Linked DNA regions of Homo sapiens. The protein of the gene in region 3 purifies or fractionates together with the protein of the main gene of each other region. This does not show direct contact. Each region holds a gene or a part of one and is shown on either strand. Other genes may lie near its edges. The genes, in order: GMIP, SAE1 and PANK4.

Evidence for each region.
Region 1: the proteins of PANK4 (region 3) and GMIP fractionate together in Homo sapiens (co-fractionation; one large-scale study listed by BioGRID). This does not show direct contact.
Region 2: the proteins of PANK4 (region 3) and SAE1 fractionate together in Homo sapiens (co-fractionation; one large-scale study listed by BioGRID). This does not show direct contact.

The regions. Positions count from the first base shown.
Region 1 is NC_000019.10:19,633,583-19,637,227, reverse strand, and holds part of GMIP (GEM-interacting protein), read left to right. Parts: intron 1-198; coding exon 199-311; intron 312-431; coding exon 432-521; intron 522-1,506; coding exon 1,507-1,584; intron 1,585-1,658; coding exon 1,659-1,813; intron 1,814-2,014; coding exon 2,015-2,203; intron 2,204-2,298; coding exon 2,299-2,436; intron 2,437-2,524; coding exon 2,525-2,721; intron 2,722-3,037; coding exon 3,038-3,425; intron 3,426-3,645. UniProt on the Homo sapiens protein: Stimulates, in vitro and in vivo, the GTPase activity of RhoA.
Region 2 is NC_000019.10:47,133,755-47,137,399, reverse strand, and holds part of SAE1 (SUMO-activating enzyme subunit 1), read right to left. Parts: intron 1-3,645. UniProt on the Homo sapiens protein: The heterodimer acts as an E1 ligase for SUMO1, SUMO2, SUMO3, and probably SUMO4. It mediates ATP-dependent activation of SUMO proteins followed by formation of a thioester bond between a SUMO protein and a conserved active site cysteine residue on UBA2/SAE2.
Region 3 is NC_000001.11:2,509,551-2,513,195, reverse strand, and holds part of PANK4 (4'-phosphopantetheine phosphatase), read left to right. Parts: intron 1-156; coding exon 157-308; intron 309-1,512; coding exon 1,513-1,568; intron 1,569-1,808; coding exon 1,809-1,858; intron 1,859-2,413; coding exon 2,414-2,518; intron 2,519-3,038; coding exon 3,039-3,139; intron 3,140-3,265; coding exon 3,266-3,334; intron 3,335-3,645. UniProt on the Homo sapiens protein: Phosphatase which shows a preference for 4'-phosphopantetheine and its oxidatively damaged forms (sulfonate or S-sulfonate), providing strong indirect evidence that the phosphatase activity pre-empts damage in the coenzyme A (CoA) pathway.

The DNA.
Region 1 (3,645 bases), on a different chromosome or scaffold from region 3:
AGGAGGGTGAATGGGTTGTCCCAGTCCTAGGGGCAGGGGCAGGAATGTGGGGCTACTGTATTTCAGGGGCCACAATGCCCTGGGTGTCAGGGTTTGCAGACCCAAGTGCTTGGAGTTGGTACCTAGACATGATGCCTGGGTGCCATCACCCCAGGCCAGTTTCCTGGGATTCAAACCTTCAAACTTCTGTCTTCTCAGCTCCCCTCTGGACATCAGAAAGAAGCTCTCTGGGCCTCTTCCTCCAAGGCTGGATGAGAATTCAGCTGAGCCAGGCCCTTGGGAGGATCCGGGCACAGGCTGGCGCTGGCAAGGTGAGTGCAATGAGGGCCAGGTGGGAGTGGTGCCAGGAGTTCGTTCCACCAACACATAGGTGGGCTGCAGGAGTGGGGTTTGTGAGCAGGGGACCATCCTTATTGACCTGTGCCACCTAGGGACTCCAGGCCCCACTCCGGGCAGCGATGTGGACAGCGTGGGTGGCGGCAGCGAGTCTCGGTCCCTGGACTCACCCACTTCCAGCCCAGGTAGGGATAGGACCTGGTCCTGACCCACACTCCACCTGTGACCATCCTCCAGCCCCTGGCCAAGCTCTGACCCTCAATCTTTAACTATCTTTGACCTCTGACCTACCCCACACCCCTGACCTATTTCCTCAACCTCTTTTTTTACCTTTTTAAAAATTATTTATTTATTTATTTGTTTGTTTATTTGAGACAGTCTCATTCTGTCGCCCAGCCTGGAGTGCAGTGGCGTGATCTCGGCTCACTGCAACCTCCACCTCCCAGATTCAAGCGATTCTCCTGTCTCAGCCTCTGGAGTAGCTGGGATTACAGGTGTGCACTACCACGCCGGCTGATTTTTGTATTTTTTAGTAGAGACGGGGTTTCACCATGTTGGCCAGGCTGATCTCGAACTCCTGACCTCAGGTGATCCACCTGCCTCGGTCTCCCAAAGTGCAGGGATTACAGGTGTGTGCCACCACGCCCGGCCTTTTCTTTTCTTTTCTTTCTTTCTTTTTTTTTTTTTTGAGACAGAGTCTTGCTCTGTTGCCCAGGCTGGAGCGCAGTGGTACGATCTTGGCTCACTGCAACCTCCGCCTCCCAGGTTCAAGCGATTCTCGTGCCTCAGCCTCCCGAGTAGCTGGGACTACAGGTGCCTGCCACCATGCCTGGTTAATGTTTGTATTTTTAGTAGAGACAAGGTTTTGCCATGTTGGCCAGGCTGGTGTCAAACTCCTTGCCTCATGTGATCCTCCTGCCTCAGCTTCCCAAAGTGCTGGGATTACAGGTGTGAGCCACTGCGCCCGGCCTATTTCCTCAACCTCTTGATCCAGCTTATGAACCACCCCCCTCAGGTTGCTGACCCAATTCTCCAACCCTTAACCACTGACCTGTCCAATCCCCCTCCTGACCTCTGACCCCTTGGGAATTAGTGGGTGGTTCTGGAAGCCCTAAAAACCAGGAGTGCCTCCCATAGCCCAGGAATCTCCCATGATTCCTCTGACCCCAGGCGCTGGCACGAGGCAGCTGGTGAAGGCTTCGTCCACAGGCACTGAGTCCTCAGATGACTTTGAGGAGCGAGACCCTGGTGAGGCTGAAGCAGGGTAGGTCAGGATGGGACAGGGCAGGGCACCAGGCACTCCTGACCCTGTCTCCCTGCAGACCTGGGAGACGGGCTGGAGAATGGGCTGGGCAGCCCCTTCGGGAAGTGGACACTGTCCAGCGCGGCTCAGACCCACCAGCTGCGGCGACTGCGGGGCCCAGCCAAGTGCCGCGAGTGCGAAGCCTTCATGGTCAGCGGGACGGAGTGTGAGGAGGTGTGGCCTGGGTTAATGACCAAATGACCTTTGCTGACCCTTGATCATCTCCCTGACCTGAGATTCCTACAGCCTTTCTGCCCCTGGGACCCACCCTAACCTGATGTCTCCCATGAGCCCCCATTCCTTGAGGATCCTTGTAACCTTCTCTTCCCCTACTGGTCCCTAATGACCTCCCTGTCCCTGTGACCTTCCCCACAGTGCTTTCTGACCTGCCACAAGCGCTGCCTGGAGACTCTCCTGATCCTCTGTGGACACAGGCGGCTCCCAGCCCGGACACCCCTTTTTGGGGTTGACTTCCTGCAGCTACCCAGGGACTTCCCGGAGGAGGTACCCTTTGTGGTCACGAAGTGCACGGCTGAGATAGAACACCGTGCCCTGGATGTGCAGGTGCTGCCCTGACCCTTCATCATCCCCAGAAGTGACCTGACCGAATCGATGGCCTATCACGAACCAGGTGTCTGTTTTTCACCCTCACCCTGCAGGGCATTTACCGGGTCAGCGGGTCCCGGGTCCGTGTGGAGCGGCTGTGCCAGGCTTTCGAGAATGGCCGAGCGTTGGTGGAGCTGTCGGGGAACTCGCCTCATGACGTCTCGAGTGTCCTCAAGCGATTTCTTCAGGAGGTTGGTGCTCAGGACACTGAGGGGGACGCGGGCAGGAGCCCTCCACAGCCCACCCACACTCGTGTTGCGCCCTCCGTTCCACCCCCAGCTCACCGAGCCCGTGATCCCCTTCCACCTCTACGACGCCTTCATCTCTCTGGCTAAGACCTTGCATGCAGACCCTGGGGACGACCCTGGGACCCCCAGCCCCAGCCCTGAGGTTATCCGCTCGCTGAAGACCCTCTTGGTACAGCTGCCTGACTCTAACTACAACACCCTGCGGCACCTGGTGGCCCATCTGTTCAGGTGTGCATGGGTCCCTGAGCCTTGAAACGCGACCCTTTTCCCTGGACATGCGACTACTAACTTCCCTGGCTGACCCCTGACACTGACCTCTGACCTTTGACCTGTGTTTTCTGAACTCTGAACCTTAATCCATGATTCATAACTTTGGGTACTGACCCCTGACCTCCAGTTCTGGATATGTGGCTGCTGGTCTCAGACGACTTACACCTGTGACATGGGCAAGTCACCTCTAGGCTGGCCTGCGTGTCCCACCCTTACCCTCAGACCAATGAGCTTGCATCCTGTACCCTGACCTTTCTCTTCACACCATCCCCAGGGTGGCTGCACGATTTATGGAAAACAAGATGTCTGCCAACAACCTGGGCATTGTGTTTGGGCCGACACTGCTGCGGCCGCCGGACGGCCCGCGGGCAGCCAGCGCCATCCCTGTCACCTGCCTGCTGGACTCTGGGCATCAGGCCCAGCTTGTGGAGTTCCTCATCGTGCACTACGAGCAGATCTTTGGGATGGATGAGCTCCCCCAGGCCACTGAGCCCCCGCCCCAAGACTCCAGCCCAGCCCCTGGGCCCCTCACAACCAGCTCCCAACCGCCACCCCCGCACCTTGACCCAGACTCCCAGCCCCCAGTCCTAGCCTCAGACCCCGGCCCAGACCCCCAGCACCACAGTACCCTGGAGCAGCATCCCACGGCCACACCTACCGAGGTAAGAACCCACTGGGCCCACAGCTATGGAGAGGGCCTTATCTCTGTTCAATTCTCTTACCTTCTCTTTCACCTTCCTTCCTTTTTAAAATTTCCTTCATTCTCTTCCTCCCTTCCTCATTTAACTTATGTTCATTCTGGAAGGAATAGTGAGGAATGAGCAGTGGGCAGTGATGATGTAACAAAAGGGGACAGCCCTGCAGAGGTACTAACATGGGTGA
Region 2 (3,645 bases), on a different chromosome or scaffold from region 3:
TATTTATTTTTGAGACAGAGTTTCGCTCTTGTCACCCAGGCTGGAGTGCGATAGTGTGACCTTGGCTCACTAAAACCTCTGCCTCCTGGATTCAAACAATTCTCCTGCCTCAGCCTCCCAAGTAGTTGGGATTACAAGCACCCACCACCACACCTGGCTAATTTTTTTTGTATTTTTAGTAGAGACGGTCACCATGTTGGCCAGGCTAGTCTCGAACTCCTGACCTCAGGTGATCCACCCACCTCGGCCTCTCAAAGTCCTGGGATTACAGGCTGAGTCACTGTGACGGCCTTTACTCTCTTTTAATCCACAACAGTCCCTTCACTTATTTTTCCCATGAAACTGACTTTTGGAAGAGAAGTAGGATAACTGTCTTATAAAATGCCCCACAATTTGTACATTTTATCAGCCTGCCCATTTCCAGGGCTTCTGTTTCATAAAGGAACTCCAGTCTCCAGAGTTCTCCTATCCCACCTAGAACCCTCCTATCCCACCTAGAGCCCTCTTAGAGGCAAGTCAATTTGCTCTGTGGAGCCTCCTTCCTCATCTGAACAGAGAAGGAAATCACTGCCCTTCCGACTCCAGAGAGCTGCTATAAGACTCAGGTGAAGGCCGGGGGCTGTGGCTCATGCCTGTAATCCCAGCACTTTGGGAGGCCAAGGCGGGCGGATCACCTGAGGTCAGGAGTTCACAGCCTGACCAACATGGAGGAATCCCGTCTCTACTAAAATACAAAATTAGCCGGGCATGGTGGCACACGCCTGTAATCCCAGCTACTTGGGAGGCTGAACCAGAAGAATTGCTTGAACCTGGGAGGCAAGGGTTGCGGTGAGCTGAGATCACGCCACCATACTCCAGTCTGGGTAACAAGAGCGAAACTCCGTCTCAAAAAAAAAAAAAAAAAAGACTCGGGTAAAAATGCAATCCCACTGCTAGGTATATACCCAAATGAAAATAAATCAGGCTGGGTGTGGTGGCTCACGCCTGTAATTGCAACACTTTGGGGGGCCAAGGAGGGCCAATCACCTGAAGCCAGGAGTTTGAGACCAGCCTGGCCAACACAGCAACCCCATCTCTACTAAAAAATACAAAGATTAGCCGGGCGTGGTGGCAGGTGCCTGTAATCTCAGCTACTTGGGAGGCTTAGGCAGGAGAATCGCTTGAACCTGGGAGGTGGAGATTGTACTGGGCTGAGATCGTGCCACTGTCCTCTAGCCTGGGCAACAGAGCGAGGCTCGGTCTCAAAAGAAAAAAAACTGCAATAAATCCCATGTTTATTGCAGCACTCTTCACAATAGCCAAGATTTGAAAGCAACCCATATGTCTATCAACAGACAAATGGATAAAGAAATTGTGGTACACGAGGTCAGGAGATTGAGACCATCCTGGCCAACAAGGTGAAACCCCGTCTCTACTAAAAATACAGAAATTAGCCGGGCGTGGTGGCGGGCACCTGTAGTCCCAGCTACTAGGGAGGCTGAGGCAGGAGAATGGCGTGAACCTGGGAGGCGGAGCTTGCAGTGAACCAAGACTGCGCCACTGCACTCCAGCCTACTCCAGCCTAGGCGACACGGCGAGACTCCGTTTCAAAAAAAAAAATAGAAATTGTGGTACAAAGGCTGGGCATTGCTGTTCACGCCTCTAATCCCAGCACTTTGCAGGGAGGCAGGAGGATTATTTGAGCCCAGGAGTTGGAGACTAGCCTGGTGAAACCCCACCTGTACTAAAATATTAGCTGGGCTTGTGACACGTGCTATAGTCACAACTACCGGGAGGCTGAGGTGGGAGGATCACCTGAGCCCAAGAAGTCAAGGCTGAAGTGAGTTGTGATCACACCACTGCACTCTAGTCTGCGCGACAGAGAGACCCTGTCTACAAAAAAAAGGGAATGAGATCCTGTCATTTACAACAACAGGGAGGGCACTGGATGTTATTATGTTAAGTGAAATAAATCAGGCACAGAAAGAAAACTTTGCACGCTGTCACTTATTTGTGGGAACTAAAAAAATTAAAACAATTGAACTCATGCAGATAGTAGACTGAGGGTTACCAGAGGCTAGGAAGGGTAGTGGGGGGTGGAGGGGAAGGAGGGATGACTAATGGATACAAAAATATAATTAAATACAATGAATAAGATACAGTATTTGATAGCATAACAGGGTGACTACAGTCAACAATAATTTGTTGTACATTTCAAAGCAACTAAAAGAATATAATTGGATTGTTTGTAACACAAAGGATAAGTGCTTAAGGTGGTGGATACCCCATTTACCCTGATGTGATTATTACCCATTGTATGCCTGTATCAAAGTATCTCACATACCCCCAAAATGTATACACCTACTATGTACTCACACAAAAAAATTTTTAATTTCTAAAAACCTCGGCTGAAAATGGACAAAAAACACTTTAATAAACTCTCTAAGACTGTCTAAAAATAGAGTACAAATTACAAACAACCTCTTCCCTCCCTCCTGCAACCCCCAGCCAATCCTTTTCATGTTCTCCACCAAATTTGGTACAGCTCCACTCCCTCAGAATAATTCCTACCTCCCACAAATTCCATGCCCTGACCCTGACTTGTCCCTTAGGTCATCTCCCACTCAGAGGCCCCCATCCATTCTTCACTGCTTCTCAGAAAAATCATCCCCATCCCTCTGAAAGTTCCCTAACTACATTCCAGTTTAAACCTCACCAACTTTGCCCCACTTCAAACAAAGCTATCTGCTGCCGCAAACCCCTTCGATTAACCCTTCCAGTACCTTAGAATCCCCTCCCCAACCCTTTAGGATCTCAGAACACACCAAGCTTCCTCAAAGTTTCCTCCAACTCACATAAATCCTCTTTCCACTCCATCCAGAAAATAGCAGTCCCTAAAATCAATGCAGTCCACCTATGTCCAGAGGCACATTCTCATCACTTAATTCCCAATCTATTCCAGGTGCCTTCAACCCTCCCACCAATGTTAATGCCTCATGATGACATCCCCCCACCCCATCAAAGAAGACCCCACAGATCTGAAATGAGCCTGAGGTAATTCCCATCCCACCACTGCACCCTCTAAAACCTTCTGAAAGCTCCCACCCCCTCAAACTAAATTCTCCTGACGTGTCTGCCTCCCCAACCCCTCCATTAATTCTATACTCTGTACTCACACAATACCCACCATCACCCAAATTTTACCTCTGAACTCAACCCCTCACATATTTCTACTTAGTTGTATAAAAAAACAAATCTGAGGCCGGGCATGGTGGCTCACACCTGTAATCCCAGCACTTTGGGAGGCCGAGGCAGGTGGATCACGAGGTCAGGGGTTCAACACCAGCCTGACCAACACGGTGAAACTCCGTCTCTACTAAAAATACAAAAATTAGCTGGGCATGGTGGCGGGCGCCTGTAATCCCAGCTACTCGGGAGGCTGAGGCAGGAGAATTGCTTGAACCTGGGAGGCAGAGGTTGCAGTGAGCCGAGACCATGCCACTGCACTCCAGCCTGGGCGACAGAGTGAGACTCCGTCTCAAAAAAAAAAAAAACAAACAAAAAAAACAAATCTGAAACCTAAAAGAGAACTGACTCTTCCCCGACCCCACCAAACCTACAGCTCTCCATATCTTTCAAAATGGCAATTCCATCGTTCCAGGTAGG
Region 3 (3,645 bases):
GTCCCGGACCGATAGGCTTGTGCCTGGTGGGGTCCCAGTTGGGCCTGAGTCTTCGATCCTGAGGGGCGTGGTATGGAACAGGCTGCGCCTGGCAGGTGTCCAGGGTGGGCTGAGGCCACGTCTTCACTCAGGCCTGGCATCTGGCACTCTCCACAGGTGAAGCAGCGGGAGAATGGCGTGGCGCTGAGGTGCTTCCCCGGGGTCGTGCGCTCCCTGGACGCGCTGGGCTGGGAGGAACGGCAGCTGGCGCTGGTGAAAGGCCTCCTGGCGGGGAATGTCTTCGACTGGGGGGCCAAAGCCGTGTCTGCGTAGGTGTCTGCGGGCTCGGAGCAGGCTCTGCAGCCTGTGGGTGCCTGTCCTGCCCCAGGCTTGCGGGCAAGGAGGTGGAGCGGGTCCCTTGGGGGTCACGTGGCGCTTGGTGGCTTGGTGGCTCAGGGCTTTGGGGCCCAGGGAGTGCACATGGCAGCAGCGCCAGGGGCTGGGCAGGGCGCAGCGCCCTTGTCTGTCCCCTCAGGTTCTGAGGAGGCCCCTTCCTTAAGCATGGGTGCCGCAGAGGCCTAAGGGTGTGGATTTGAAAATCGGGGCTGGCATTTTCTATTGTCAGAATCCAAATTCATGTTTCCTATGTGTGGTAGGAATTAAACATTTCTGATGTGATGATCAAAGGGTGCTTTGCAAAGCAGTCCCCTAGACTGGCCTGTAGGACACGCAGGTGTCTAGCACCTGGCGCCGTCTCCTGGGGCTCTGAATCTTGAAAATGAACCCCCCCACCATCATTTACCTTCACTCCCAAAGAAGCTGCTTCCAGTCTCTGGGCCTCCCCAGGCGGCCGCACCACCTCTCGTGGTCCCTGCTTTTTTTCATGTGGGGCTGGAGGGAAATGCCTGGGTTCTCAGCCCTCCCTGGGTCCCACTCGTGTCTCGAGACATAGATGAGAACGCCGCCTCCAACCATGGCTGCCCCTCTGGGACACAGGCCCCTCCCGCAGCCTGTCAGGAGCATTGGAGGAGGGTCCTGACCCATGGGATTGGCCTTGTGGCTGGGGGCTCCCCACACCGCCTGCATGGGTGCCAAGCACAGGGACCATACTGCGGCTGCCAGTCACCGAGAGGCTTCCCTGGCCCCGTGGCTCCGAGTCCACCTTGAGAAACAGCCTGTGCTCTCTCAGACCTTTGCTTGGTGGCCCCCTGAGCCTTCTGCGGATCGCAGCATGTTAAGAACGCTGTATCTGTTCTGCCTGGGAGTGATTTGGGGTCTTCACGTTGAGCAGCTGCCTCTGTCCCACCTGGGAGGGATTTGGGGTCTTAGCAGCTGCCTCTGTCCTGCCTGGGAGTGATTTGGGGTCTTCACGTTGAGCAGCTGCCCCTGTCCCACCTGGGAGGGATTTGGGATCTTTACATTGAGCAGCTGCCTCTGTCCCGCCTGGGAGGGATTTGGGGTCTTCACATTGAGCACTGTGGCTGAAGGTTTTTGTTCTGTTGTCTTAATTTTCTTTTCTCCTCCTCCATGCAGTGTCCTTGAATCCGACCCCTACTTTGGGTTTGAAGAAGCAAAGAGGAAGTTACAAGGTACGGATGGCCAAGTAACTTGGGGCCTTGCCTTGTGCTGGGGCCATGCCTGGACGTTCTCTGCAACAGCGAATGCAGTTGCGGTCGGGGTCCAGGCACCTCCCCTGCTCAAGGCTCTGTCAGCTGGGCTTCGGGGGCGGGGAGAACTTGCTTCCTGGAGAGACGAACACCTGAAGACGCGTCTCCCTGACCCCTGACCTGGAGCACCGGGCTAATCATGTGTCCCTCTCTCTGTCTCAGAAAGACCCTGGCTCGTGGATTCCTACAGCGAGTGGCTTCAGAGATTAAAGGTATGTGGAGGGGCCTCCCACCTCTGCTGCTGGGGACACAGCGGGGCCCGGGGGGGTGGTCACTGGAGGGAGGTGGGCATGGGCTGCCTCGGGTGGCCCTCCCCTCCTGTTAGAGTCTCACCATCCTGCGAGCCAAGGGTCTCAGCATCCCCTGCCCCACACTTGCCCTCCTGTCGTGACTGCTTCTTAGGTCACCTGCTCTAGGCACAAAGCCTTGCCAGAAGAGACAGGCACTGGCCCCTGCAGGCCAATCCGTCCCTGGCGCCTCTGGGGTCCTGAAGCCCCAGTCTCAGCCCCTGCAGGCTGGCCCGTCCCGGTGCCTCTGGGGTCCTGAAGTCCCGGTCTCAGCCCCTGCAGCCCAGCCCAGTCCCGGCACCTCTGGGGCCCTGAAGCCCCTGGTCTCGGCCCCTGCAGGACAGCCCATCCCTGGCATCTCTGGGGCCCTGAAGCCCCCAGTCTCGGCCCCTGCAGGGCAGCGTGACGGGCAGCAGGGGTGCGGACTGACTCGCTTGGATGCGCCTGTTCCCAACTGAACGTCCTGGTTTTGTCTTACAGGGGCCCCCTCATAAATGTGCCTTAATTTTCGCAGATAACAGTGGAATAGACATCATTTTGGGAGTCTTCCCCTTTGTCAGGGAGCTACTCCTTAGAGGGACAGAGGTGAGTGTTGAGGTGGTGGGTGGGGCCCTTCCCCTGGGCTTCTCTGCTCTCGGTGGGGTTGGCGCCGCTGTGGGCCTCTGGCGGTGGTCGGGGCTCCTCCGGACGCAGCAGGTAGGTGCAGGCAGCAGCACGGGGGAGGCGGCCCAGAGCCGTCATCTGCTGGGGTGGAGGCTCCGAGCCCCCTGGGCTCAGGCTGAGGGTCCATGTGCTGAAGCCCAGGGTTGACGCCAGGCTCCTGGAAGGGTGCTCACAGCAAGGAGGCTTTGGGGCTGTGACTTCACAGACAGGCAGGTCCCAGGGGCAGGCTCTAAACTCAGCTCTGCCCCTCGGCTCAGCTCCCTCCCAGGGGCCACAGAGTGGCAAGGTCAGGCGAGGTCCCTGCTCCTCAGCAGCAGGTGGCTGGCCAGGCCCGCTGGGCACAGCACCCTCACCCAGCCCAGCCACTCGAAGGCCGGGGTGCACGCAGGCTCCATGCTGGGCCAGCACAGGTTCCTAAAGAGCCTGGGCCCTCCTCCTGCAGGTCATCCTGGCGTGCAACTCAGGCCCCGCCCTGAACGACGTGACCCACAGCGAGTCCCTCATCGTGGCAGAGCGTATTGCGGGCATGGACCCTGTCGTGCAGTGAGTGTTGGCGGGCAGTGCTGGGGGGGCCTTGATGGGGAGGGGCACCAGCTGGGCAGAGTGGGCCATGGGGATTGTCACTGAACTGGGAGCTCCTGGGGGCACTGACCACCTTGTATCTGGCAGCTCTGCGCTCCAGGAAGAGAGGCTGCTGCTGGTGCAGACGGGCTCCAGCTCCCCGTGCCTCGACCTCAGGTAACCCCGCACCCTGCACCTGTTCTCTCCCTCCTGGGCTCTGTGCCCTCTGTGCCGTGCACCTGCACCCAGGTGCATGCGGGACACCGACCTCAGGACTGCCCCTGCGGCCTCTCCTGACCCCAGGCCCGGATTGATCTCAGGAGGGGACAGATATGCCATCCCCGAAGGTGGCCTGGGGAGGGTGAATGGATTCAGGGTCTGAGGTGGTTACACATGGGCTGGGTTTGGGGACTTGGGGCAAGAGGGGCCAATGTCCCTGTGGCCACTCAGCTGAGACCGAGGGCGACCTGGGCAGCTGCCCGGTGTCT